Linked DNA regions of Homo sapiens: regions 2, 3, 4, 5 and 6 are each linked to region 1. Evidence: fine-mapped expression QTL. A gene starts in region 1. Each other region holds a variant in brackets. All regions are shown on one strand. Distances are between the middles of the regions. Region 1 holds the start of IQSEC1 (IQ motif and Sec7 domain ArfGEF 1). Region 2 overlaps IQSEC1 (IQ motif and Sec7 domain ArfGEF 1). Region 3 overlaps TMEM40 (transmembrane protein 40). Region 4 overlaps IQSEC1 (IQ motif and Sec7 domain ArfGEF 1). Region 5 overlaps IQSEC1 (IQ motif and Sec7 domain ArfGEF 1). Region 6 overlaps IQSEC1 (IQ motif and Sec7 domain ArfGEF 1).

Region 1 (4,101 bases):
TAGGCACTACCCACGTGCCCTGTAAATGATGTTTTGTAAAAGCCTAAAATCTTGGCATTTGTATCTGAATGCCAGGGTCCTTGCCATTTCCTCTGCTTTGAAATAACAGCATAACATGGAAGGAAAAGGAGAGTACGTTTATAAGAAGAAGTGCTGAAGAAGCAACGGATGTGCAGATGCATGTCATGGGCCTCCCAGGGAGCAAAAGAGGAAGCCCAGGAAAGGGACACTGGGTGCTCCACACTCAAGGCATCCAATTCACCACTCTGAGCCTGTTTCCGCCTCTGGAAGATGGAAGTGAGAAGAGAATCGCTAGTTGAGCAAGGCGGCTGAGAGGGGCATTGCTCTAGCCCGAGCCAGGCTGTGAGTTAGTCTGGGCTCTGCTGCTGCCTTGATGGGAGACCCCCGTATGTGGTGCAACCCATCTAAGCAGGAGTGGTAATTATGTTCACTTCGTAGGGCGCTTCTGAGAATTCACTGAGACCATGAAACAACTGGACCTGACACAAAGTGAGCCCTCCTGATGCAGTGGCTGAATTTTGATGTTATTAAAATCTTTTGAAACTCCAGTGAGGAGAGGGGTGGGGTGGGCTCTGCAACATGTTAACCCACAGAAATATGAATTCCTCACATGACTCAGGGAGGGAGGTCCGTGCTACAGGAAGATTGGTCATGCATATGGATTCACCTGGAGAGGGCAGATCGGGAAGCGTCATGCAGTTCTGTTCGATGCCTCACCTTGGCCACCTGAGGCCGCAGCTCCAACCTCTGCTCCCTACCAGGACACTGAGCTGGAAGACTGGGGTCCTAGTCCCACCTCTGCCACTCTTTGCTGTGCAACTTTAGGCAAATCGCTCACCCCCTGAGGTTCATTTCCTCCCCTGTAAAGGATGGAATGGAACTCAAGGATGCAGCATCACTCCTTCTAAATTCGGTGAGTGTGAATCTGGAGAGAATGGAAAGAGGAAGGGAAATGGCCCTGTGGGCTGCCATCCACATCCAGCCGATTCCCAGTCTCAACTACTCCCTCTCTCATTTATTCCTCCCAGTGAGGCAGCTTTCAAGCAGTCAAGAACCAAGACTCTGGAGCCAGACTGCCCGCCAGCTATGTGGCTTGGGCCAGTTGCTGAACCTCTGGCTTTAATGCGCTCCCCCGTGAAGTAGGATGATAGTATTAGGCCTCATTGGGGTTGTCTTGAGGATTACCGTGCACGGAAGAATATTATCTACATGCCTCTGAGATAGGTCTGGGATTCCTGGTTTACAGATGAGGAAGCAGAGAGGATCAGATGAACATCAGACAGGAAGAGAGAAATCTGTGTGGGAAAGGCGGGTGTGGGAGCCGAGGATGGATGTGCGCTTCTCCCCTCCACCTCCCTGTCGCACACTGCACCACGCTGGCCTCCTCTGGGCCAGTCAAATACACCAGGCTGCCTTCCGCCTCAGAGCCTTGACGCCAGCTCCTCCCCTGCTTCTTGCGTCATCCGAGTCTCAGCCACACGTGCCTCACAGAGGGCCTTCCCGACCACCCCGTCTGATGGCAGAAGCCTCCTTCCCGCCTCTCTTGGGGTCCCTGCCTCCCCTCTTCCTGCTCTCTTTTCATCCTGATCCTTATCACCACGTGCAATCCTATATCTGCACACTTACTTCCTGGCTTCCCCTTAGACTGTAAACATCATGAGGGCAGATACTTGCCCGGCACATGGAAGGTCCTCGGGAGAGGAAGAGGCACCATAGCTAGACCAGAAATTCTCCCTAGCCACGTGCAGCCCCCTTTGGGACAGGACTGGCACAAACGAGGACTGCTCTGCCATCCACCGTGCAGCTACTGGCGTGGTGCGCCCTCCTGGAACCCCGTGGTATAGCTGTTATGATCCCTTTCACAGTAGCATAATCAAGACTCCCAGGAGAGACGCGGCTTGCCAAGGTCTCATCGCCCTTCAGTGGCAGAGACAGCCTTGGAGTCGGCCGGCCTCACTCCAGGGCCAGAGCCCCGAGAGCTCCGCGGCTCGCGTGTCTCAGTGCCGAAGGCAGAAAAGCCGCCTTGGAAAGTAGTGTCATCGTAGGCTCCGCGCGGCGCGTGCATTTTAGCAACAGACTTCCAGGTTTCCAGCGCGGGCCAGGAAGGGGCCGGCGCCCCGCGCCCCGCCGGGTGTGTGACTTTGCCGCGAGGGCGCAGCCGAGCGGCCGCGCCTGATGCTGCTGTTGCCATGGCGACCAGCGCCTCGGCGATTGGTCCGGCGCGGCCGCACTACGTTGCTCCTTGGGCGCGGGGGGTGGGGGAGGCTCCGGCGCGCCCGCCCCTTCTCCGGATGCTGCGAGAGCAAACCCGGGGCAGCCTTCTCTCGACCCTCCCCTCCTCATCCCCGCGCCCCGCACCCCGGATGGACGGGAGGGAAAAACCCCAAGGTGGGCCCAGGTAGCAGCGAGGTGGACGCCCCCGCCCAGCCTGGCGACCACGGTTACTCGACGTCCTCGCTCGCTCCTGGGCACGGTGTGAGCGCGCGCTACGTGCCAGGGCCCTCCACAGCCCGCTGCTGGCGCCGCCCCCCGCTCCCGCCCCAGCCTCCCTGGAGGAGCCCGCCACCCCCGGGAATGTGACTCGCCCCGCGATTTAATTTTATTCCCCTCCACTTCTTGCCTGAGCCGCCTGCTCCTCTTGGAAACACGTTGAGCCTCCCCGCTGGAGAGGGAGCCAGAACAGGGAAGAACGGATTCACACAGGATGGCTTGCAGAAGACGCTATTTGTGAGTATATGTGGCAGGTTTCTGCCTGAAGCCAGAGGCCAGAGGGGCCCGGCTGAGCTGGGAGCTGGAGTGAGGGGCATCGTTGGGGGAGGGGCAGGTGGATGTGCAGGTGACTTGCAGAGGGAGCTGGCCACCCAGCAGGGATGCCGGCGCTCGGCCCCTGCAGCGGAGGTGTTTGTTGGTGATGACGATGAGAAAAAGGCTATTAGTCAGCAGGTCTTCAGCAGGCTGTGAAATTCCCAACTGTGAGAGCAGGTATCCCCCCTCCCAGATCCACATTCAGGGTGCCCAGACCGGCTCCTACTGTTTTGGCTTTGGTTTAGCCCATAGCCTGTTTAGGAAGAGAATCTCTGCCCAGCACGCCCATGGCCAGCCCTTCAGCCATGCCTGATAGAAGGTCGCAGGCAGGCTGAGGCAGTGGCCAGGATGCTGCGTCCTCCAAGGGCAGGTGAAGGTCCAGCCCACCGTCCCTAGCACGGAGGCATCAGTGTCCAGCTGTGTGCCCAGGTGTTCTGTGGGCTGGCAGCAGAGCGGCTGTGTGCTGGGCCTCACGCCAGCAGCAGAGGCTGTGAAAGTCTGCACGGGGCGGTGACATCACGGGCCCGGGTATTTATGGAAACCAAAGCCTGCGCTTCGGTTAGCCAGGCTTCCCAGGGGGCAGTGGGGTTCGAATGCCAGCTTCCCTCACAGCTCTCTGGGCGCTGCACTGTGCTGTTCTAGGAGGAGCAACCTTTGCCCTCCTCTGGGACCCTCGGCTGCGGGGGTTGAGGCCCAGCGTCAGGTCTCCACCTGCCTAAACTATTTGCCCAGGACCCACTCATTTGGGGCTGTGCAGTGACCTCAGACCTTAGGAGGTTAGAGAGCATGGCTGAGTCCTCTTGAGCTGGGCTCAGTCGCAAGGCTAGGAAAAGGAGGCCTGGAGCAGTATGTGGGGAGCCTTCTGGGGGCTACCCCAAGGCCTCCCTAATCGATGGAGGCCCCTTACCATGGCAGGGGCCTGTGGAACCCCTGATAGAGTGGCAGCTCCCCGTCACCTCCACTGAGGGAAAGTAAACACACCTCTGCCTCTGCTGCGTCAGCAGTGCCAGGCGGCAACCCACGGGGGATGGCGGTGGCCTCTGGTTCGGGGGATGGCGGTGGCCTCTGGTTTGGGGGATGGCAGTGGCCTCTGGTTTGGGGGATGGCAGTGGCCTCTGGTTCAGGGAATGGCAGTGGCCTCTGGTTCGGGGGATGGCGGCCTCTGGTTTGGGGGATGGCGGTGGCCTCTGGTTCGAGGGATGACGGTGGCCTCTGGTTCGCTGTGATGCTCACTTGCTTTTTTAGTGGAGAAGCTCACAGGTTGGTTTGTCGATG
Region 2 (4,101 bases), 96 kb after region 1:
GGAGTTTATAACAGCATTTTGTTTTTGTTGATTTATTTTCATGGGAAAATTCAATTTATGCTTAGTGAGGCTGGCTTTTCACTTGTGGAGCAGATATAAAGTTTTCTTGATAGAATGAAGAGCGTTAAGTAATTGGAATGTATACAGGTGCTATGTGGTTGTTGGGAAAACTAAACCCAGGTCACTCCCACTCCTGCTTACACCCTCACAGGATGAAGCTCCTGCTCGGTCCACTGGCCTCATGCCCCACAGCGCACCCATCCCCACACTTCATGCCCCATGTAGATGCAGAACTACAGGAATATTTTCCAAGTTAACCAAGCCTTTGCCCTTGCCACTTCATGTACCTGCAATGCCTTTATCCTGCTGGGCCACCCGGTGAATTCCCATTCATGCCACAAATCCCAAGACAGGCATCACCTCCTACAGGAAGCCTTCCCTGAATGACTAATCCACCAGCTAGCAATCATTCCTGCCTGTCTACCAGGTTGCTCCTATTACTGCATTTAGTGGCTTTAGTGGCTTACTGTTGTGCAAAGATTCTTTTTTATTTATTTATTTTTTTTTTTGAGACTGAGCCTCGCTCTATTGCCCAGGTTGGAGTGCACTGGTGCAATCTCTGCTTACTGCAACCTCCACCTCCAGGGTTCAAGTGATTCTCCTGCCTCAGCCTCCCGAGTAGCTGGGAGTACAGGCACCCGCCCCACGCCCGGCTAATTTTTGTAGTTTTTTTTATTTTAGTAGAGACGGGGTTTCACCGTATTGGCCAGGCTGGTCTCGAACTCCTGACCATGTGATCCGCCCGCCTCAGTCTCCCAAAGTGCTGGGATTACAGGTGTGAGCCACCGCGCCCGGCCCTGTGCAAAGATTCTTAAACTGCTGCAGGTATTACAGTCATCTGGGGGGTGGGAATTTGCATTTCAAATGATTCCCAGCTGAGGCTGCTGCTGCTGCTGTTTCTAGGACCCCACTTTGAGGACAACTGTTGGAGTGCAAGGAACACAGGCTGAGTGTCAGCCTACTGGGCTCTAATCCCAGCTTCATCACATGGGCTGTGTGTCTTAGTGCAAATTACTTACCTTCTCTAGGCTTCAAGGCCTCTGTGATAAATCAGAAAACAATCCGCACCTTGTAGAATTTCTGTCAGGATTATGTGAACTCATGCAGGAATGTAGTTGACGCCAATTGTGAATTACTTTCACTCCCCTTACCCAACCGAGTTTCCTGAGGGCAGGGCCCACATCTGCAGCCTCTGAGATGCCTAGTGCCTAACACATAGTAGGTGGGAAGGTATGCTGGGAAGTTATTGAGCACATTCAGGAATGCACACATTCTCAATGACAGATTTATTCAAACAGTGAATCACACGTCACACATGTCCTGCCTCCATTAATTCTCAATCAGTGGAGTTGGGTCAGGTCTTCCTTCCACTGGGACAAAAGAAGGTGTTGTTTAAATCAGTAACATAAAGATGACTGCAAAAAGGGATGTTTAACTCACTTAGGAGACGCTGTTGATTTAGGAGCACTTAATGGCATCCATTTACAAAACAGGTGAACCCAGCACTTATTATAAATGAACGTATCTATTCATTACAGCAGAGGCCCTGCATTCCCTTGGTAGCTGTTCTTTGGTGTGAACTCACTACATAAAAGGCAGCAGGCTGTCTCCCCAACAGCTACCAGGAATGCAGCCCCGGCCCTGCCACGGTGTCTAAGCCAGTGACATCCAGGTGAGATGTTCTGAAGGAGGGCAAGCCCTTGCAGCTTTCTCTCTGTATTTTTTCTAGATTCCCTCAGTTTCTCCACCCATTTTCATATGCAGATAAGCCCCAGTTTTGGTAAAGCTACCAGGAAAGAAACCGAAGTATACCAAGGATGGCCATTCGTTTTGCCAACGGGATAGCGCTTTTTTTTTTTTTCCCTGGAGACAGGATTTTATACTGTTGCCCAGGCTGGAGTGCAGTGGTGCAATCATGGCTCACTGCAGCCTTGAACTCTTGGGCTCAG[C/G]TGATCCTCCCACCTCAACCTCCCTAGTAGCTGGAACCACAGGCATGTGCCACCACACCCGGCTAATTTTTTATATTTTTAGTAGAGATGAGGTTTCGCCATGTTGCCCAGGCTAGTCTCTAACTCCTGAGCTCAAGCAATCTGCCTGCCTCAGCCTCCCACCTGTAATCCCTCAGCTGGGATTACAGGTATGAGCTGCTGTGCCCAGCCTGACGCCTCCTTTTTAAATAAAATCTTTAGCTGATGGGTTCCTTTAAATACTGAGCTCTCCTAGCACACTAGAGATGAGAATCAGTGATTTTGAAAAACCATTTTTCCAGCCCTTCCAGAATCTCTCTATGGTATAAAGAGGGGTGGGGTGCAGGGAATTGCTGAGATTGAGACAAGGATAAGCATGGGGAGAGGGAAGGAGACCTACCTTAGCCCTGTGGGTGGTCCCTGAACTAGAGTGAATCTGGATCAACATGATTCACCTGTCCAGCAGACATTTATTGAGCACCTGCTATAGACGGCAGGGGATACAGTGGCAAATGAACAAAGTTGCAGAGCTACTTTCTGGTGGAAGTGACAGTGAGTACATAAGTGATTAAGCCAGATAATGATGGACTGTGAGATGGGCTTTAAAGGGAATCGATGAGACAGAGAGAATGTGGACGAAGGTTCAGGAAGGTCCCGAGGAAGAAGTGACAGAACATACATGTATTGTCGTAGAGCCCTTCATGTATGAGGTCTGTCTCCCAGACTCTATGCCTGAGGGTGGGGCTTGGAAGCTGCAGAACCCAATTCTGCTCTGGTCCCAGGCTCCCAGGGGGATCTGTAAGGGACCCTGTGAGTGTTGGCTCCACCGGAGGATGTGCTTCCTTGAGTGAGGAATGGTGAGGCGCAGGCAGCCGGGGAAGAGGTGGGGAAAAGGCAAGGACCGCTTCCCCACTGTGACCCCACCTGGGCTTGTGGGGTGTGCTCAGCAGGGCTGGCAGAGTCCCTCCTGGGGCGGCCACTGCTGCCCCCCTCCTGCTTTTCCCCAGTGTCACTCCCTTCCAGAGGGCCAGGGGCAGACCCCAGGAGGAGAGTACAGCAAAGGGAGCGGGGAGTGGTGTACACTCTGGGAGTGGGGTTCAGGGAGCAGGCTGGGTGTAAGCAGAGCACCGCTCAGGCCCAGCACCGGATGGCTCACTGAATTCTTTTCAGCAACCTAAGAGACATAGATTATTCAGTTCCATTTCACAGAGGAGGAAACTGAGGCTCAGAGAAGTGACGCCCAAGGCTATACAGCCAAGAAGGGAGCCGAGCCAGGAGTCTGCCTCTGCAGCCGTTGGGGGGCAGATGCCAAGGTTGCTTTGGTTACTCACACATCAGCTAAGGCAGAGACTTTCTTCCCGCAGAGGTCTTCCTCCTGGGCCTTGAAGGTCAGATGGAATAGTGTTGTAAGAATGAACTTGGGACTCAGTCCTGGGTTCTCATCCCTCACTAGCTGTTTGCCCTTAAACAAATTCTTTAATCTTTCTGAGCCTTGGTTTCTTTTTCTGGATGAGAAGATAGAATAGTCCCTACCTTAGAGTTCCATTGTGAAGCTTAAATGAGACAACCTGTCATGCATTTAGCACAGAACCTGCATTCAATAAGCACCTTGGATATGGGGAAAGAGGGACTGTGGAGCTTCATGGTTAAGTTCATGGTTTGGGGACCAAATGGACCTGGGCTCAAATCCCTGATCCAGCCAGGCACTAGCTGTGTGGCCTTACATAAGTTATTCAACCTCTCTGAGTCTCAGTGTATCTGTAAAATGGAAGGTTGTTGAGGATTAAGTGTGGACACTTCTGTAAAGTGCCTGGTCCAGACTGTGTGCCCTGTGAGAGGAGGCTGCAGGAAGAGGCAAGAAGAGGCAGAGAGTTGGGAAAGGAGGCTTAGGAAGACCAAACCACTTGCCCAAGATTCAAGATCATGCTCCAGAACATGGAGCCTCCGTAAGCCATGAGCATCCCCACTATGGGACGCAGCCAATGGCTGGAAAAGGTGCTTACTCACTCAACACACCTTGGCTCCTCTTGCACTTTTGCCCCCGTACAAGGTGCCAGGGCCATAGTGAAGCAAG
Region 3 (4,000 bases), 320 kb after region 1:
GTGCAGAGAACCCTGTTCAAAATAGAAATATGCCCTGGAGGCTTCTGCTGTCAGTCATTCCATCTCGATATCGATGCATTTTAATGGCTAGTGACTTCCTAATGCCTAGCTGAATTCTGCTCTGAGAAATGGGAAGTTTTATTCTAGAAAAGGGTAGGCCAGGCGCAGTGGCTCACGCCTGTAATCCCAGCACTTTGGGAGGTCAAGGCGGGCGGATCACAAGGTCAGGAGTTCGAGACCAGCCTGGCCAATATGGTGAAACCACGTCTCTACTAAAAATACAAAAATTAGCCAAGCATGGTGTGGCGCCTGTAATCCCAGCTACTCCGGAGGCTGAGGCAGAAGAATCACTTGAATCCGGGAGGCAGAGGTTGCAGTGAGCTGAGATCATGCCACTGCACTCCAGCCTGGGCGACAGAAGCGAGACTCCATCTCAAAAAACAGAAAAAAAAAACGGGTAATGGAGTCTGGGGCCTACGAGATGGGGGATGAGCAGGGATGGGACTGGACACTGAATGTCCAAGGGTAAGAGGAGGCCTGTAGAGAAGGAAACACGCATTCACAATGGCCCTGCTAAGGACTGTCCTGCCATTTTCACATACTATAAGGTAAGCACTATTACTGTCTCCGTTTTACAGATGAGAAACCCAGGGCACAGTGAAGGATTAAGTAACTAGCCCATGCTTCCATCGCTAGAAGAGGCAGAGGCAGGATTCCAACCCAGGCAATCTGGCTCTAAGACACAGGGGAGGAGGCTTCCTGCCAAGGTCTTGTGGTAGATTCTCTAGACCATTCTCAAATGGGGGGTGATGTTTGCCCCACAACAGGGGTCATTTGGCAATGTCTGGAGACATTTTTATTGTTATAGCTGAACAGGAAAGTGCTACTGGCATCTGGGAGGAGGCTGCTAAACATCTCACAATGTGTTACCCTGTCCCAAATGTCAGTCGTGTTGAGGCTGAGAAACATGGTTTAAATGAGTCAGAGGCTGGCCACAGTGGCACGTGCCTGTAGTCCCAGCTACTCAGGAGGCTGCGGTGGGAGGATTGCCTTAACCCAGGAGTTCAAGACTAGACTGGGTGATATAGCAAGACCTCTGTCTCAAATAAAGAAGTAAAAAATAAATGAATCAGAGACTAGTAAATCTACCTCCTCTCAGATTTAAGGTCTCAGCCTCAGAGCTGAGAGAAGAAGAAATAGGGCAAGGAATCAGAAGGAAGCCTGCACTTCCTGGCTCAGCTGCTATAACAGAGACTCATAGCACATGGGCTCCATTAAAAGAAACTTCTTTCCTGTGCACGTAGCTGTCAAGAGGTGGCAGGTGGCTCTGTGTGTGAGGCCGGCCGGGGCCCAGGATTCCCTTGCCTTTTTGCTTAGTCATTCCTGGATGTTGGCCATGTTTGTGGGATTGGAGTTGGTTCACCAACTTCAAATCTGCATTCCTGTCAAAATTGTACCTAGGCTGGACATGGTGGCTCACACTTGAATCCCAGCACTTTGGGAGGCCAAGGTAGGAGAATTGCTTGAGCCCAGGAGTTCAAGACCAGCCTGGGCAACATAGAGACACCCTGTTTCCACAAAAAAAAAAAAAGAAAAAGAAAAAGGATTGTGCCTGACTTTTCAGGCACAGATAAAAACTGATTTCCTTCATGAAGCCCCCTGCTAGTTGCCTAACCAATACCCACCACCCCAATTCCCACTCCCTTAACCCTCCTCCCTCCACTACCCCGG[C/G]CTTCTTGCTTGCCAACAGAACTACCATTTTTTTTGTTAATTATTTTTCTTATTCCTTTGAATGTTGAGTGTTTGTCTTTTTCTTATTTATTTGCCAAGCTCTTTGTATATTAAGATATTAACTAAGGTGATATTAACTACTGATTATTGTTATTCCTCCAGGAAAAGCCATGGAGACTTCAGCATCCTCCTCCCAGCCTCAGGACAACAGTCAAGTCCACAGAGAAACAGAAGATGTAGACTGTACGTTTGCCTTCTCTGACCCTCTGGGCAAAACCACATGGGAGGTGGAGTCCAAAAGTAGAAGGGACAGAAGAAGACCCTGCTCAACTCACGTTGCACAGGGCCTCAAATCACAGCTGAAATGGGGAAGTAGTGGTTTTACACACATGCACACACACATTTGCATGGTCCAATCTGTCCTCCTGTGCTGTCTAGCTATGGGGACCCTCAGCTGCTTGCCAAATCTCAAGAATTCTCTGGGGGCTTGGGCTGGCACTAGGGAGCACCCCTAGAAGGTGGAGAGGGTCCTGTGTGACCCCAGAATGGGGAATGGGAAGGTTTAGGACTTGATCACACCTCATCTTGGCTGTAATGTACAGAGGATCCTAAATTAGCAACTACTCTACAGAATCTAGCTGTCTCTGGGCAAGGCAGGGGGCTTAGAAACCCCTTTTCTGGCCGGGCGCGGCGGCTCACGCCTGTAATCCCAGCACTTTGGGAGGCCGAGGCGGGCAGATCAGAAGGTCAGGAGATCGAGACCATCCTGGCTAACACGGTGAAACCCCGTCTCTACTAAAAATACAAAAAATTAGCCGGGTGTGGCGGTGGGCGCCTGTAGTCCCAGCTACTCAGGAGGCTGAGGCAGGAGAATGGCATGAACCCGAGAGGCAGAGCTTGCAGTGAGCCGAGATAGCGTCACTGCAGTCCAGCCTGGGCAAAAGAGCAAGACTCCGTCTCAAAAAAAAAAGAAAGAAACCCCTTTTCTGAGTCCATATTCAGATAAATCTCTGTATTGAGCCTTCCGTGAGCCCCTGGCATCTCTGAGAGCCTTGGTCTCCTGCATGTTGCATTGGCTCTAGATATTTGGGAAGATAATCCAGTCCTTCCTGGCTCTCCAAATCCAAGTAGAACCCTGGAGAGGACTGGGTGGTCCCTGGGGTGGGAAGGGTGGGAAACGCTCATCCCCTGGCCTCTGTGTGCCTTGTAGATGGAGAGACAGATTTCCACAAGCAAGATGGGAAGGCTGGACTCTTTTCCCAAGAACAATATGAGAGAAACAAGTCTTCTTCCTCCTCCTCCTCTTCCTCCTCATCCTCCTCATCTTCTTCATCCTCCTCCTCCTCAGGTATAGCAGAGATTTAAATATATGTATATTATTCAAGAAAAAGATTTACATGGGGAAATAATCCCCCATACTTGAAGTCATTGAAGTACTTGAAACTCCAATACCGTTTCTCCACATTCTCTTCTAGAGCCGATCTGTCTACATGTGCTTCTACGTACACAGTTATCATTGATCGTATAGGCAATTTTGTCCTCCATTTAAAATTTTCCCCATCTTATCCTAAGCTTTTAGCCATGTTGTTCTGTAATATCGCTGTAGCTATTTTTAATGTTTACTGAACAGCCCCTCAAGTGGCTGCATCTCATGTAAAGTAACATTTAGGTTTATTAGAGGCACCCCAGTGCCATAGTCAAAGCGTGTGTTACAGGTTCAAATCCTGTCTCTACCACTAAGTAGCTACACGTCCTTGGGTAAACTGCTCAACCCCTGGCGCCTCAGTGCCCTCATCTAGAAGATGGGGATGAGAGCAATACATAATACCTCATGGGATTCTTGTGAGGATGAAATTCGTTATACAGGTAAAGTCTTAGCATGTAGCACATATTAAAAGCTCTAAAAGTAATTGTTGTGTTATGGTCTTCCCCTCCCAGGTTTATCATGCTCATGAGCATCCTTGTGCGAAAGCTTTTGCCTTTTGAATTTTTGTGCAAATCATTCCTAAGTATTGAGTCCTTGCAAGTACTTTAGTGGGTTTAGAGGAACAACATCCAATAGCATCTTTTTTTTTTTTTTTTTTTTTTTTTTGAGACAGAATCTTGCTCTGTTGCCCAGGCTAGAGTGCAGCGGCGTGATCTTGGCTCACTGCAACCTCCGCCTCCTGGGCTCAAGCGATTCTCCTGCCTCAGCCTCCCGAGTAGCTGGGATTACAGGCATCCACCACCATGCCTGGCCAAATTTTTGTATTTTTAGTAGAGATAGGGT
Region 4 (4,101 bases), 130 kb after region 1:
TCTGCTTCCCGGGTTCATGCTATTCTCCTGCCTCAGCCTCCTGAGTAGCTGGGACTACAGGCGACCACCACCACGCCCGGCTAATTTTTTGTATTTTTTAGTAGAGACAGGGTTTCGCCGTGTTAGCCAGGATGGTCTCAATTTCCTGACCTCGTGATCCGCCCTCCTCGGCCTCCCAAAGTGCTGGGATTACAGGTGTGAGCCACCGCGCCCGGCCTTTTTTTTAAGTTTAAAATCAGTGGTGTATTTAATGCAGGTGGTAGGAGAAAAGGCGACAGAATTCGCTGAGTCAGTAATTGCTGAGCACCTGCTGTGTGCCAGGCACTGCTCTGGGCTCTGGGGGTGATCAGCGACCCAGTGGCCAAAACTGCTGTCCTCAGGGAGCTGGCATTTGCATGTGGATGATGGACAGTGAGCAAAATCAATGAGGAAGGTATATGGGATGTCAGAGGATGGTGCACTTCACAGAGAAACTGAACCCGAGTGGGTGGGGTGCTGAGTGGAGGGGTTTTGCAGGGTCCTGCCAGCTGCACATGTGGACTCAGCCATGGGGTGTGAGAAGAACGGGCATGGGGGCTCCTCCAGGAGCATGGTGGGGTCACGCCCCACGGCCCGGTGTCGTGTTCAGATTTCCCGCTTACCAGAAGCTTCTCACCTCTCTCTCCTCTGCAGCGTCGAGGGCGAGGCCCCCAGCAGTGAGACTGGCACATCCCTGGACAGCCCCTCAGCCTACCCCCAGGGCCCCTTGGTGCCCGGTTCCAGCCTGAGCCCGGATCACTACGAGCACACGTCAGTGGGAGCCTATGGGCTGTACTCGGGGCCGCCGGGGCAACAGCAGCGCACGCGGAGGCCCAAGCTGCAGCACTCGACCTCCATCCTGCGCAAGCAGGCTGAGGAGGAGGCCATCAAGCGCTCACGCTCACTCTCCGAGAGCTATGAGCTCTCCTCGGACCTGCAGGACAAGCAGGTAGGAGAGCACAGCCCCTCAGGCCACACATGCAAGCGCAGGGCAGCTCTGCCCACCATGTGTGCCCCCACCAGGCATGGTGGCAGATCTCTCCCATAGACTTGAGTTGGGGTGCATGTGGGCTAAGGCTGAGGGCTCTGCCCCAGTTCCAGCTCCACCTGTAGCTGCTCTCAGGAGCCTCTTGCCCCAGCTGGCTCTGGCTGGCGTGTATGAAGGACCTGGGTTGTCTGGCGTTCCTTCTGGGGACTTCTAGAGAGTTGTCTTCACATGAGGCCTTTGCCATGGCCCGGGTTCCATGACCCGCATGGCCCAGATCTGGGGGGCCATGATAGGTGTCTGAGCATGAGGCCCAGTGTCATCGGGACACACTGGGTACGTGGCCGGCCACTGAGGTTCTAAAGACCCAGGAGAGGGCTGAGGGAGGGAGGTCCATTGACAGCATAAATATCACAAGCTCTGGAAAGAACCCCATCGGCAGCCAGCCAGGGGAGGCTGCTTGCTCTATTCCTCCTGGCTCACACCTCCCTGCTCCTGTGGGAAATCCCCTCATTGAAGACTGCACCCCTCCCCCAGGGGCCTTGGCCCTTAGAGGTGGCCCAGACCCACAGTGTGCCTAGGGCTGGGCTTGAGGGAGGACAAGAGGTAGCCTCTCAGGGTTGAGCCAGGAGAGGAGAATCCTGGGGTGCAGAGGAAAGAGCGAGGCCCTGAGCGGTCCCTGGGGAGGCCAAGAGCTCTCGCTTCCAAGTCCCTCCAAGTGCAGGTGCACAGTAGGTGTTTGAATGAGGATCTGAGTGACTGCACAGATGGATGAGTGAGGGGGTGAGTGGGCCAGTGCATGGACAAGCCGCTTAGCAGTTTGAGGCTTCAAGAGAACCCGGGCTCCCAGGCAGCAGTTCTGCAAGCTTGCAGGGGCAGGCTGGGGAGGGCTGTCAGACTCTCCCCAGCTCCTGGGCACTGAGCTCTAGACAGCTCCTCCAGATGCCCAGGCAGCTGCCTCTGCCCCTGCTGGCCCCAGGGCCCTTTCCCGTCTTCCCAGACTCCATGCTGCAGAAGCCCCTGGCCTTCACTCCCACCCACACCCATCCTGTGGCCCCGCCCGCCCTCTGCTTGCTCCCAGATCTTCCTGGTTATCCTTTTTCTTTAAAAACAATTTTTGGGTTGTTTTTGTTTGTTTGTGTTTGCTGGGAGTATAGATTC[A/G]AGTTGCTCCCCTTTTTGTCCTTTAAGGAGTAGAGTTCTGGGCCTGGTGTGCCCCAACTTCCTAAGGGAGTGGTGCAGATACTGCCTGGGGTTGGGGGTCGTCCACTCTCTTGACAGGGAAGCCCCCATCAGCCCCTTCCTCACCTGGCTGTCGGTGCTGCCTTGCAACTTAGGCCGGACCGACACAGGGCAGAGCAACCTCTGTTCCTTTATCCGTGATGCCCAGATCCAAAGTGGACCACGGTTTATAGTAAGAGATGTCTGCAACAGAGCCATTTAAACAGAAAGGAGAAAGGTTGGGACTTAATAGAGGCCTTTGAAGAGAATTATATGCTTACTGTGGGCCTAATAGGACTGCAGCTATTCATTTTCATTCCATGCATATTATCTGAACGCCCACTATGCACCAGACACTGTGTTGGGTGCCCATGACCAAGGCGAGGCCCCTGCTCTTGAGCTCCACTGTGGCACAGGAGCTGGACAGGAGCAAGTTAGCAATGCAGAGGCAGTTGACTTCCAGAAAGTAATGCAAACTCTAGGGATTCTAAACATTGGGGAAAGAAATAGGGCAGCTACGGGAGGCAATAGCATTGGGTAAGGCTGGTTGGGAAGACCTCTCTAAGGAGGCATTAGAGCTGGCTGTCCCAGGAAGAGGCAACAGCTGATGTAAAGGCTGCCGAGTGTGTGAAATGGAAAGGAAGGCCTGGAAGAGGTTCCAAAGAGGTAAGAGGGAGGAGGCGACATCAAGGGCCACTGAGCATTTGATGGTCCACTGAGCTTCCTGGAAAGCTCAGCAAAAGTGGGAATGGGACAGATTGCATGGGAATCACCAGATGAAAAAGTAGGGTGCCCGATTCCACGAGGAGTTTTAAGTCTGGATAACACAGAGTCCATTTTAGTGAAAGGAGCCCAAGGGCTAGTCTCCTGTGCTCTTCTGGCCCCTGACCCACTGTGCCCTCCAGTGGCTTTCTGTCCCTGAAGCAGGAAACTTGAGTGGGTTTCAGGTACTGTCCCTGTGTCATCAAGAAGTGACAGTTCTGCTTTGCTGAAGGGCATTCTTCCGGGTTCCTCTTCTGTACTGCTCAGAAGTTTCCCTTGAAGGGACAAGTGAGGGCCGGATGGGGGAGCCCTGGCCACGGGGTCGACTCCTCTATCCAGGAACCATGTGCCCTGGGGCAGCGGCTTCCCTCCGCTGAGCGTCTTCCCTCCGCTGAGTGTCTTGTCCTTGCTGAGAAGTGGGGTAGTGAAACCCCTCGGGAGAGCAGAAGCTGCTGTGAGGTGGCATGAGGGTATGGGGGTCCCCAGCACACATAGTAGATGAGCACATGTTAGTAGAATCTCATCCACTGGGTCCCGGGAAACTTTTCGACCGGGCCTGGCAATAGTTCCATCCCAGAAAGAAGAATGACCCACGGTAAGTTTGGGGACGAGGAAGAGTAGCCCCAGGTCCATGTGTGTCCCCCTGGGGGAGGAACTGCCAGGGGCTCTGGTGAACAAATGCAGAGCCCATTGCTGCCTTCCTGAAGTCCCTTCGCCCCCAACACACACAGGTTTGGGCAGGAGGTCTCAGGAAAACAGGGTGGCTGCGTGGTCTGCGAGGTCCGGAGCCAGCAGGTGAGAAGGCCCTGCGGGGAGCTCTAGGCCTGAGCTGGAGGTCCTCGTACTTGTGCCGCCCACAAAGTACAGTGAGGGAAGAAAGGCTTCCTAGATCCCAGCCTTGGGCCTCTTATGGGCCCCAGGGGCTTTCTAAGCTCCACTCACAACCCAAAAAATAGAAACTTTCTGCTTACAGTTGTGGAAGTGAGGTCATTTCTTGGATGGCGTTCAGTAACAGGGCGAGAGAGAAAACAGACTGTGGCCTGGGATTGGAAAAGTCATTTTGATCTGCTCCCCTCAAGCCCCCCCAGCTCTTCTCCTCCACCCAGCCTGCTGGGACC
Region 5 (4,101 bases), 46 kb after region 1:
GCAGGTGGAGGTTGCAGTGAGCAGAGATTGCACCACTGCACTCCAACTTGGGTGACAGAGTTAGACTGTATAAAAAAAAGATTTTAGACAGAGCATGATGGCTCACGCCTGTAATCCTAACACTTCCGGAAGCTGAGATGGGAAGATTACTTGAGGCCAGGAGTTCAAGACCAGTCTGGTTAATGTAGCGAGACCTCATCTCAAAATAAATAAATAAATAAAGGTGGGACGAGGGTGGAGCTGGGAATGGTCTGGGAATGGAGGAAAGCCATGGAGCAGGTTCAGGCAGCAGACTTACCTCTACAGGTCTGGGTATTGGGAAACAGCCCAGAGGCAGCAGATGACAAGGAAAGGAGGCAGGGAGGCCAGTGAGGAGGTGAGGACCCAGCCCAGGGTGCTGCAGTCCTTACCAGTCCTCACCAGTCCTCTTTGAAGGGGATTTGTGTGGACACGTGCACGCATGCACGCACACACACATCTCACACCGCATGTGCGCACACACACTCACGCTCACGCACAAGGGGAGGGTTCCTGTTTGGCCCCCCTTGACCTGGACGGCAAGACCCAGGGAGTCAGGATACAGGGGCTAAAGAATTGAGGCCTCTCAGCACAACAAAATGGAGATTGAAGGGAGCAGCTTTCTTCTTTGTCTAAGGAAGGGGGTAGTGAATAGGCACAGCCTGCAACAAAAAGGATTTAGGTTAGACATTGAGAAAGACTTCCAAGCCAGCCGAGGAGAGCCGTGTTATGTAGCGGTTATGAAGCATGTCTCAGAACAAAGCTGCTTCAGTTCAATTCCCCACCCTGCCATGTTCTATCTGTATTAACCCTGGGCGTGTCTGTGGACCTCTCTCTGCCTTCCTTTCTTTATCCTATAGATCAGATAGTAATAGCACCTACCTCATGGGATGAGCCTAAGCATTAAATGAATTAGTCACACATAGAGCAGTGGCTACAGGAACCATTCAGTAGCCCTTAGGTATCACCGTTCTTGTTGTGTTGATGGAGAGCTGTGTCACCCTGGAAGTTTTAAAGACGGCCATAGCCAGAAACTTTCAAGGCTAGAGGCTTAGAAGGGCAGTTGCTATATATTCGTGATCTTCTATATAGCTTTACACAGTACAGTCACACAGCGTTAGCTCCTTCCATTTGTTTCATCTTCACAACCCCTGGAGATAGATCCTATTTTTCTCCCCATGTTGTGGATGAAGAAACTGAGGTAGGCCAGAAGGTGTGAGGAACGGCTTGTGAGGATCCCTTGGCCAGCGCAGGTCTCAGAATCAGGACTTCTGATCCGGAGTCCCAGATCTGCGGCTTCCTTACTGTGTGACCTCAGGGCAAGTCGCCTCCACCTCTGAGACTCCATTCTCCATCTCCAACACTGAAGAATGAGGCCAGAGCCTCCGGTGCCTATGTTGTCTGATTTCCTTGCATAGAAGATCTGAGCACAAACCCTGATGGTCAAACCCAGTACCATCTGCCCTCCCCATGGCTGAAAGGAAACGTGTCAGAACCCTCAGAAGGGACAACCCATGGGGACTGGCTGTCACTTTGACTGATTGCTAATGTGAGTCCTTCCATCTGGGGTGTCATCTGTCCCATGACCATGCCACCTGCAGAGGCACCCAGTTCTAGGGTCTGGCTCTGCCCTGACCCCGGTTGGGGTCACCTTAGCAAGTTCTTGGAAAAACATCCCCCAAACAGCCTCTACCCAGATGCTCAAGAGCTGCTCAGGATCCTGTTTCTACCCTCCCATGGCATAACTCGATAAGACTGTGCAATTGTCTTTATACTTCCTGCCGGCCTAGCCTGGCCCAGCCTCGGGGGACAGCTGACAAACAGAGGCCAGACGGTGAGCAGTCCCTGGCCCCAGATCCCACCCTGGCAGGTCATGTCCCTTATCTGGGACTCAG[T/C]TTTATTTGCAAAATAAGGGCAGAGGGATCAAGTGAGCTACTTGTTCATTCATTCATTCGGCAGGTATTCATTCATTAACTCCCCCTCTGGGCCAAACCCTATGCTTGAGGCGTGAGAAATGGATAAGCAAACCCCCTATTTGTCCTCCTGTCACTTCCAGTCTGGGATTATCAGCCCTGCGGGGCTTTGAGGGGCCACAGGCGTCTCTGGAGCTGAAGCAATCATGGGCAGCTTCCTGGGGGAGGAGGCAGCTAAGTGGACCTTGAAAGACAAGAAGGAGCGGAGGATACAAGAGGTATCCTGTGGGCTAGACACTCACAGATGTATTTTATTTGGCTTGCATAGGATTAACCTACATATCATTGTAAATTTGAATTTATTGCAAACATATAAAAATCAAGAGCTGTTACGTAAAAACCTGGATTTCTGATATCTGAAAAATCAGAGCCCTTATTCCTACAGAGCAGCCATCAGCCAGAGCCAAGCCACAGTTGTTCTGTTTGACCAGTCGGAGTCCCCCCGTTCTGCCTTGCCTCATCATCCCTCCAAACCTGCTCCCACTGGCCATCCCTGTGTCCCTGTCACCGTGGATGGAACCTCCATTTTTCCAGTTGTTCAGGCCAGCAACCCAGGCATCATCTTCCACTCCTCTTTTCTCTCTCACCTCCTCATCTTATTGATCAGACATTTCTACCAGTTCCACTTTGAGAATGTCTCTAGAATCCAACCTCTTGTCCTCACCTTCCTGTCCACCACCCCAGTCCAAGCAACAGTTCCTCCCTGGCCCCTGCCTGGCCATTGCCCCCTTGCGGTCTCTTTTCTGCACAGCAAGTAAAGTGAGGCCCTGCAGGCCAAGTCTGGCAACTTGGACGCTGGCCCTTTGTGCTCCATAAGATGGACTTGCGGAAGCTCTTCTCTGCCTTCTTTCCCAGCTCCTGCCCTGAAGTGAGTGCCCAGCCCCTGCCTGCGCACTGGATATTAGTGGCCATCCTAGGCCCGAGACAAGATGGTGGAACTCAGGATGCCAGCTGCCTGGGAGGCTGGGAGCCCACTACTGTCCTCCAAGACCCAACGCTCTCAGCACCCTGGACTTTCATTTTTCCATTTGGAAAACGGGCATTCCAGCACCCATCCTCAAAAGGCCAATGCTTCTTGAGAAGGGGGATCCAGGGTTTTGAAGTTCGGCCAACTCGGTGTATGTGCCTTCCTGCGCCTTGCATGGCTCTGGGCACCATTGGAAGACTGCAGATATAAATGACAAGTGATTTATTTTGTTTTCAGCCTCCAGAGCTTTAGCTTTAGAGTCAGATAGGCAGAGCTGGGTTTATATATCATCCTGAGTAACTAACCTCAGCATCTGAACCTCAGTTTATTAATTGGTAAAAAAAAAAACAAACAAAAAAAAAAAAAACTGGGGAGATAATAACTGCTACTTCATAGGGTGATTGTGCAAAGAACTAAGCTACATAGATCTCCTCACCTGCTCATGTGAGCTCTCAGAGCAGTGAGGGAGGGATGCAGAGACAGGTCATCCAAGTGCAGGGAAGAAATGGCTGCAGTCCAGGCTCAGGGAACGGAGAGGATGCAGGGCAAAAAAGGATGGACTCCTGGAGAAGGGAAGTGTATCATCCAGAGAAATGATCTAGTTTATACGCCTTCTTCATGGCACAGCCCACTGTGGGAAATCGTTTTCATTTGCTCCCTTGGTACAGAAGGAAGGCCAGCCCCACCAGGCTCCACAGTTTTGTTCACCAAATCCTCAAGTGATATCTGGCACAGAGTAAGCCAATTAATGAATGTTGACTGGGTGAAGGAACAAGCCAATGGAAAATTGGCTTCCTAGAGGAGGTGTCGTCTGAGTTTGAGCCTTGAGCATTGGGTCCTGGTAGGAAACATGGGTCACTACACAAGCTCCCTTGCAGTGTGGCCCGTGATGGGGCTGTGTGCAGGGTGGGATGGGGTTAAGGGAACTGGACACCTGGGCTGGCAGAAGGGGGGAACCCTAACCAGCCCTGGGCCAGAGGGTTGGGGGAGAGAACAGTTTCATGAACCAGAAAGAGAGAGACCTGGGTGCAAACAGCCACCCATCAGGACTGTGGCTGCCGAGGGGCACAGGAAGCGAGGACAGAGCTGAGGCAACGAGTACCCTGACCTATCATTCTCTCCTCCACCTCCTGACCTCCTGCC
Region 6 (4,101 bases), 57 kb after region 1:
GGCAGGAGGGCCGTGAACAGCTCAGCTGGCAGCCAGCCTTTGAGAGCTTCCAGGGAGCTTCCTGGACAATTAGCCATCTGATGCCCCTCTGCAGGAGGGCCAGTGGGCGTTCCTCTTGGGACAGAGTGCTCACCACCTCCCAGCCTGGGCCATGCCTAGGCAGCTCTGACGCGAGGACATTTGTTCCCACTTGGAACTGGCACCATCCTTCCTGCGGTGCTCGCTGCCACCCACCCACACACTGAAGTGGCCTGGCCCTGTCCTCTGAGCCTCACAACCCATCTGCTCCCCAGCTCTGGACAGCCTGCAGAGACCAGGACTCCCTGAGGCTGAGGAAGGGGTCACCAGCCTCCTCCCCACCCACGCCTTCTGGACACACCCTGGCTCGTGCTGTCTATCTCCGGGAAGAGCCCAGAGCTGAGTTTGGGATGGGCAGGAGGTCCTGGGCAGAGCAGAGCAGAGCCGCCACTTCTCTGGCTCTGGGCACTGCCTGGAGCACACATAAATTCCCTTATGGCTGCTTTCCCCTTTCACCCGTGGGCCTCACCATTGCCTCAGCCCTGCCAGCCTCACCTCCCTCTCCTCGGTTCCCATCTCTGCTAGTGACTGCCGCCCCCTCTCCCTGCATCGAGTCTTCGTTCAGGGGATGAAGACCTACTCTGTGCCTGACACTGTGCCAGGTGCTAACTATCCATTCCCACATCCAGCCAGCTAGCGCCCACCCTGTGAGGAGCACTGTCCCACAGCACAGAGGAGGACCTGAGTCCAAGGCTTTGCGTTACTGGTTTCCTCACCGGAGTTGTGGGTGAGGCTCTTCTTGGCAAGCACCACAGGGCAGCACTTGTCGCCGAGAGCTCAGAGCCCAGCAGCAAGGCGGCATGGGCATGAGCCACTCTGACACATGGGAAGAGGCTTTCTTCCGCTGATCAGCAAGTAGTTTGCTGAGCACCTATTGTTTGCTGCCCCGGGCTAGACCCTGGGGATACAGCAGTGAGTGAGGTGGACACTCAGGCCTCCTGGAGCAGATAGATGTTCAGGTGAGAGAGAAATGATAAAGAGAAAATAAACAAATGAAGATGCCTTCAGGCAAAGATCGGTGCCAAGAAAATAAAACAGGGAGGGATGACAGAGTGATCGGGGAGAGGGAGCCACATGGCCTGGGGAGGTCAAGAAGGGCCTCTCCCAGTGGCCGTCAGTGGATGAATAGATAAACACAATGTGGTCTGTCCATAGTGTGGAATATTATTCAGCCACAAAAAGAAATGAAGTTCTGGCACGTGTTACAGCACAGGTGAACCTTGAGGACATCATGCTAAGTGAAAGAAGCCAGACGGAAGACCACAGAGCGTATGGTCCCGTTTCTAGGAAATGTCCAGAACAGGCAAATCTATAGAGACGGGAGGTAGGTTTGCCGTGATCCAGGGCTGGGGAGGGGTTCTTTTTGAGTGATGAAAATATGCTAAACATAGATAGTGGTGACAGTTGCACCCCTCTGGGAATATACTATTAATAAAATCATTGAACTATACATTTTAAATGGGTGAGTTGTATGGTGTGTGAATTATATCTTAATAAGACTGTTTGAAAAGAAAACAAAGACTCGTCTGCAGTGGTGGCCTTGCGTTGAGAGTGACAGGGTGGAGTGAGTTTGTGAGGACCTTGGGGAAGAGCAGGCAGAGAGAGCAGCTGGTGTAAGGACCCTGAGGTCTGTGTGCACCTGCAGGAGGAGCACAGAGGAGGAGGCTGGCAGGAGTCGAGAGGGCGGGAGGAGCAGTCCCCGTGGTGGCAGGGCCAGATCCTGGAGAGGGCTTGAAAGTTGACTGGGGCGGGAGAGCCAC[G/A]GCTGGGTAACATTGCTGTGCTTTCTGTTTTAAAACCGTCACCCGGGCTGCTGTGAGGAAATGAGACTGTGGAGAGGGAGTGGTGGGGCGTTGGGGGCAGGGAAGGCCGGTTGAGATGTGGCGGCCGGCCACTGTTTAGATGAGAGATGACAATTGAGACCCAAAGAAGGAGACAGACAGACTGGCTGGCGGTTGCAGTGGGAATTCAGACAGGGACAGAGCACTCCTGGCGGAGAGGAGGCTTCCTGGAGGAGGGGCCTGGGCCCGGACACTGGCAATGTCAGGATGGGCTGGTGGCGGCTCTCCAGATGGCACCCCTGTGGGGGATGTGGGGGGCCCTGCCTGGCCATGGGGAGACGAGACTGGCCACCCTACCCTGGCACCACCCCTGGGTCCCCTTTGGGCCCAAGCTGCTAAGTAAGTAGGGCACCCTCTCTCCAGGGACCCCTGTCACACTACTTTATGCTGCTGGCTCCAGCTGGCCCTCCGTGACAGTGCAGTGCCCATGTGGCCAGAGACCCAGAAGGGGCCCGGCACTCTGAACAAAGCAGTCTGCCTGGAACTTAAGTGGCCCTGAAACACGATCAGGCACCAGAGACTGTCCAGGGAGGTGGGTGTATTATTTATTGACTGGGGCCTGCCCAGTGAAGCCATTTGGGTTTGCCAGACCTGGAAGGAGCCCCCTCAGCAGTGCCTGGGGGCCTTTTGGAGGGCAGGTGGGCGGGGGCCCCAGGGTGCCTGGCACCCTCTCCCCTGGGTGTGGTTTCCTGGATGCCGACTGAGCAGGGAGGAAGTCAGACGTCAGGACCTGCTGTGGGGATGGACCCACAGCTCATCCCCCGGGGCCGCAGAGGCAGGCCAGGCACTGGGGTTCCAGGGACACCTCCGCCCCCTCCACTTTGAGACTGTGAGTACCACCCACCTGGCCCGGGGAGGGGACCTCAGCAGCCCTGAGAAACCTGTGAGGGGCTGGCGACTGTCAGGGCAGCCTGCCGTGGTGAGGGTCTTGGGGGCTGTCGTCAGAGTTTTCACTGTTTCTCAGAGCTGTATTCTGTGACCCGTTTCTCACTGCCTGGAATGCACACAGGCTCGCCCTGGGCCCAGGAACACCAGGTGTTTCCCCACAGCCGCAAGGGGAAGTTCTTTAGCTCCCCTGCGCGTTAGACCAGCCCCAGGCCCCATTAGGGTTGAGAACCAGGGCCCCGCAGCCCACCTGGATGGCAGGGAGTGTTGGGTCGCTGCCTACGGCCCTCACAACCACCCTGAGAAAGATGGACTCTTGACAATGCCCAGTTTACAGCCGAGTAAACTGAGGCCCTCAGAAGTCACACAGAAGTCAGAAGTCCTCAGAGGCCCTCAGAAGTCACACAGTGGCCCAGGGCTCCTGGAGCATATTTGGTGTGTTTCCTTCCCACACTGCTGCCCCCCTCAACCCTATGGTGCATAAACTTTGAGCAAATGGAGGTTTATGGCTGAGGGAACACAAGGCTTCCCCAGGCTGTGTTGAGGAGACACTGCCTTGCAGAAGTCTTCCCTGCCCCAGGCTCGCTGGGGCCATTTCCCATCTGGCAGTAGCCCAGTATGTGTCCCCCCAGGAGCCCCTTGACCCACTGACAAGTTCAGTATCTTTCTGAAATGATCCAGAGTGGAACCTTGAGGATCTGTAGATCCCTGGGGCTGGGAGCGTGTTGGGGGATGTTCCCTGGGTTCTGAGCTGTAACCCCTGAGCCTGACCTCTTGGGGTCCTTGGGCCAACAGCCCCTGGCTCACTGGGGTCATCAGGGAGTTCAACAGATGGGTCAGAGGAAGCTTTTACCGACCCAGCCTCAGGGAGCAGCCTGGGAGCTCTCACTCCCAGCCAAGCCTCCCCCACCCCAGCCCTGGCTCTTGGGGGCAGGCAAGACAGATAGCCCTTTCCTTAGGACTGGAGCCCAACCAGTGGCAGATGGAAAAAGTGAGGCCCAGTGATAAGGAAGCAATGGGCACCTTCACCCCTGCCCCCACGCTGCAGACAGAAGGCTGCTCAGTGCCCTGAGGGGTCAGTCACTCTGTCTCAAATCCCAGCTCCCCAGTGTGCCCCAGCCATGTGACATGGGACAGATGTCCCAACATCTCTGGGCCTGGGTTTCCATATAACCCATAGCGAAAGTCCTCCCTTCCGGGGTTGTTGTGAGGCTTAGATGGTGAAGCAGGCCTCTGTGGGGAATCTCCCTGTGGGCGTAGGTGACTCTGGGTTCCCATCTCACTGAGAGATTTACCAGGG

The links. PIP is the estimated chance that this variant, and not a neighbour inherited with it, causes the effect.
Region 2: its variant is the best candidate, but not a certain one, in a credible set for the expression of IQSEC1 in nasal epithelium (TOPMed, PIP 0.69).
Region 3: its variant is the best candidate, but not a certain one, in a credible set for the expression of IQSEC1 in whole blood (TOPMed, PIP 0.81).
Region 4: its variant is the best candidate, but not a certain one, in a credible set for the expression of IQSEC1 in esophagus mucosa (GTEx, PIP 0.51).
Region 5: its variant is the best candidate, but not a certain one, in a credible set for the expression of IQSEC1 in whole blood (INTERVAL, PIP 0.80).
Region 6: its variant is the best candidate, but not a certain one, in a credible set for the expression of IQSEC1 in whole blood (INTERVAL, PIP 0.89).

What each region holds. Positions count from the first base shown.
Region 1 is chr3:13,071,639-13,075,739 of GRCh38, reverse strand. It overlaps IQSEC1 (IQ motif and Sec7 domain ArfGEF 1), which reads left to right and starts at 2,311. Exons shown (of 14, transcript NM_001134382.3): 1 at 2,311-2,748. The coding sequence starts at 2,726. RefSeq lists silencers at 1,936-2,115, 2,236-2,395.
Region 2 is chr3:12,975,173-12,979,273 of GRCh38, reverse strand. All of the region lies in intron 1 of IQSEC1 (IQ motif and Sec7 domain ArfGEF 1), which reads left to right. Among named protein-coding and RNA genes, the nearest start is that of LINC02022, 92 kb to the right of the region's middle. RefSeq lists an enhancer at 1-224. The variant C/G (reference allele first, on the strand shown) is at 2,010.
Region 3 is chr3:12,747,734-12,751,733 of GRCh38, reverse strand. TMEM40 (transmembrane protein 40) reads left to right here. Exons shown (of 12, transcript NM_018306.4): 2 at 1,894-1,974; 3 at 2,942-3,079. The coding sequence starts at 1,902. Among named protein-coding and RNA genes, the nearest start is that of TMEM40, 9.5 kb to the left of the region's middle. RefSeq lists a silencer at 1,964-2,113 and an enhancer at 2,384-2,433. The variant C/G (reference allele first, on the strand shown) is at 1,732.
Region 4 is chr3:12,938,437-12,942,537 of GRCh38, reverse strand. IQSEC1 (IQ motif and Sec7 domain ArfGEF 1) reads left to right here. Exons shown (of 14, transcript NM_001134382.3): 2 at 673-967. All of the region lies in intron 4 of LOC105376956 (a long non-coding RNA gene), which reads right to left. Among named protein-coding and RNA genes, the nearest start is that of LINC02022, 55 kb to the right of the region's middle. The variant A/G (reference allele first, on the strand shown) is at 2,165.
Region 5 is chr3:13,026,089-13,030,189 of GRCh38, reverse strand. The region is part of intron 1 of IQSEC1 (IQ motif and Sec7 domain ArfGEF 1); the gene reads left to right. Among named protein-coding and RNA genes, the nearest start is that of IQSEC1, 45 kb to the left of the region's middle. RefSeq lists enhancers at 2,376-2,875, 2,876-3,377. The variant T/C (reference allele first, on the strand shown) is at 1,914.
Region 6 is chr3:13,014,222-13,018,322 of GRCh38, reverse strand. The region is part of intron 1 of IQSEC1 (IQ motif and Sec7 domain ArfGEF 1); the gene reads left to right. Among named protein-coding and RNA genes, the nearest start is that of IQSEC1, 57 kb to the left of the region's middle. RefSeq lists enhancers at 1-268, 269-1,068, 1,530-1,639, 2,260-2,359, 1,645-2,412 and 4 more. The variant G/A (reference allele first, on the strand shown) is at 1,839.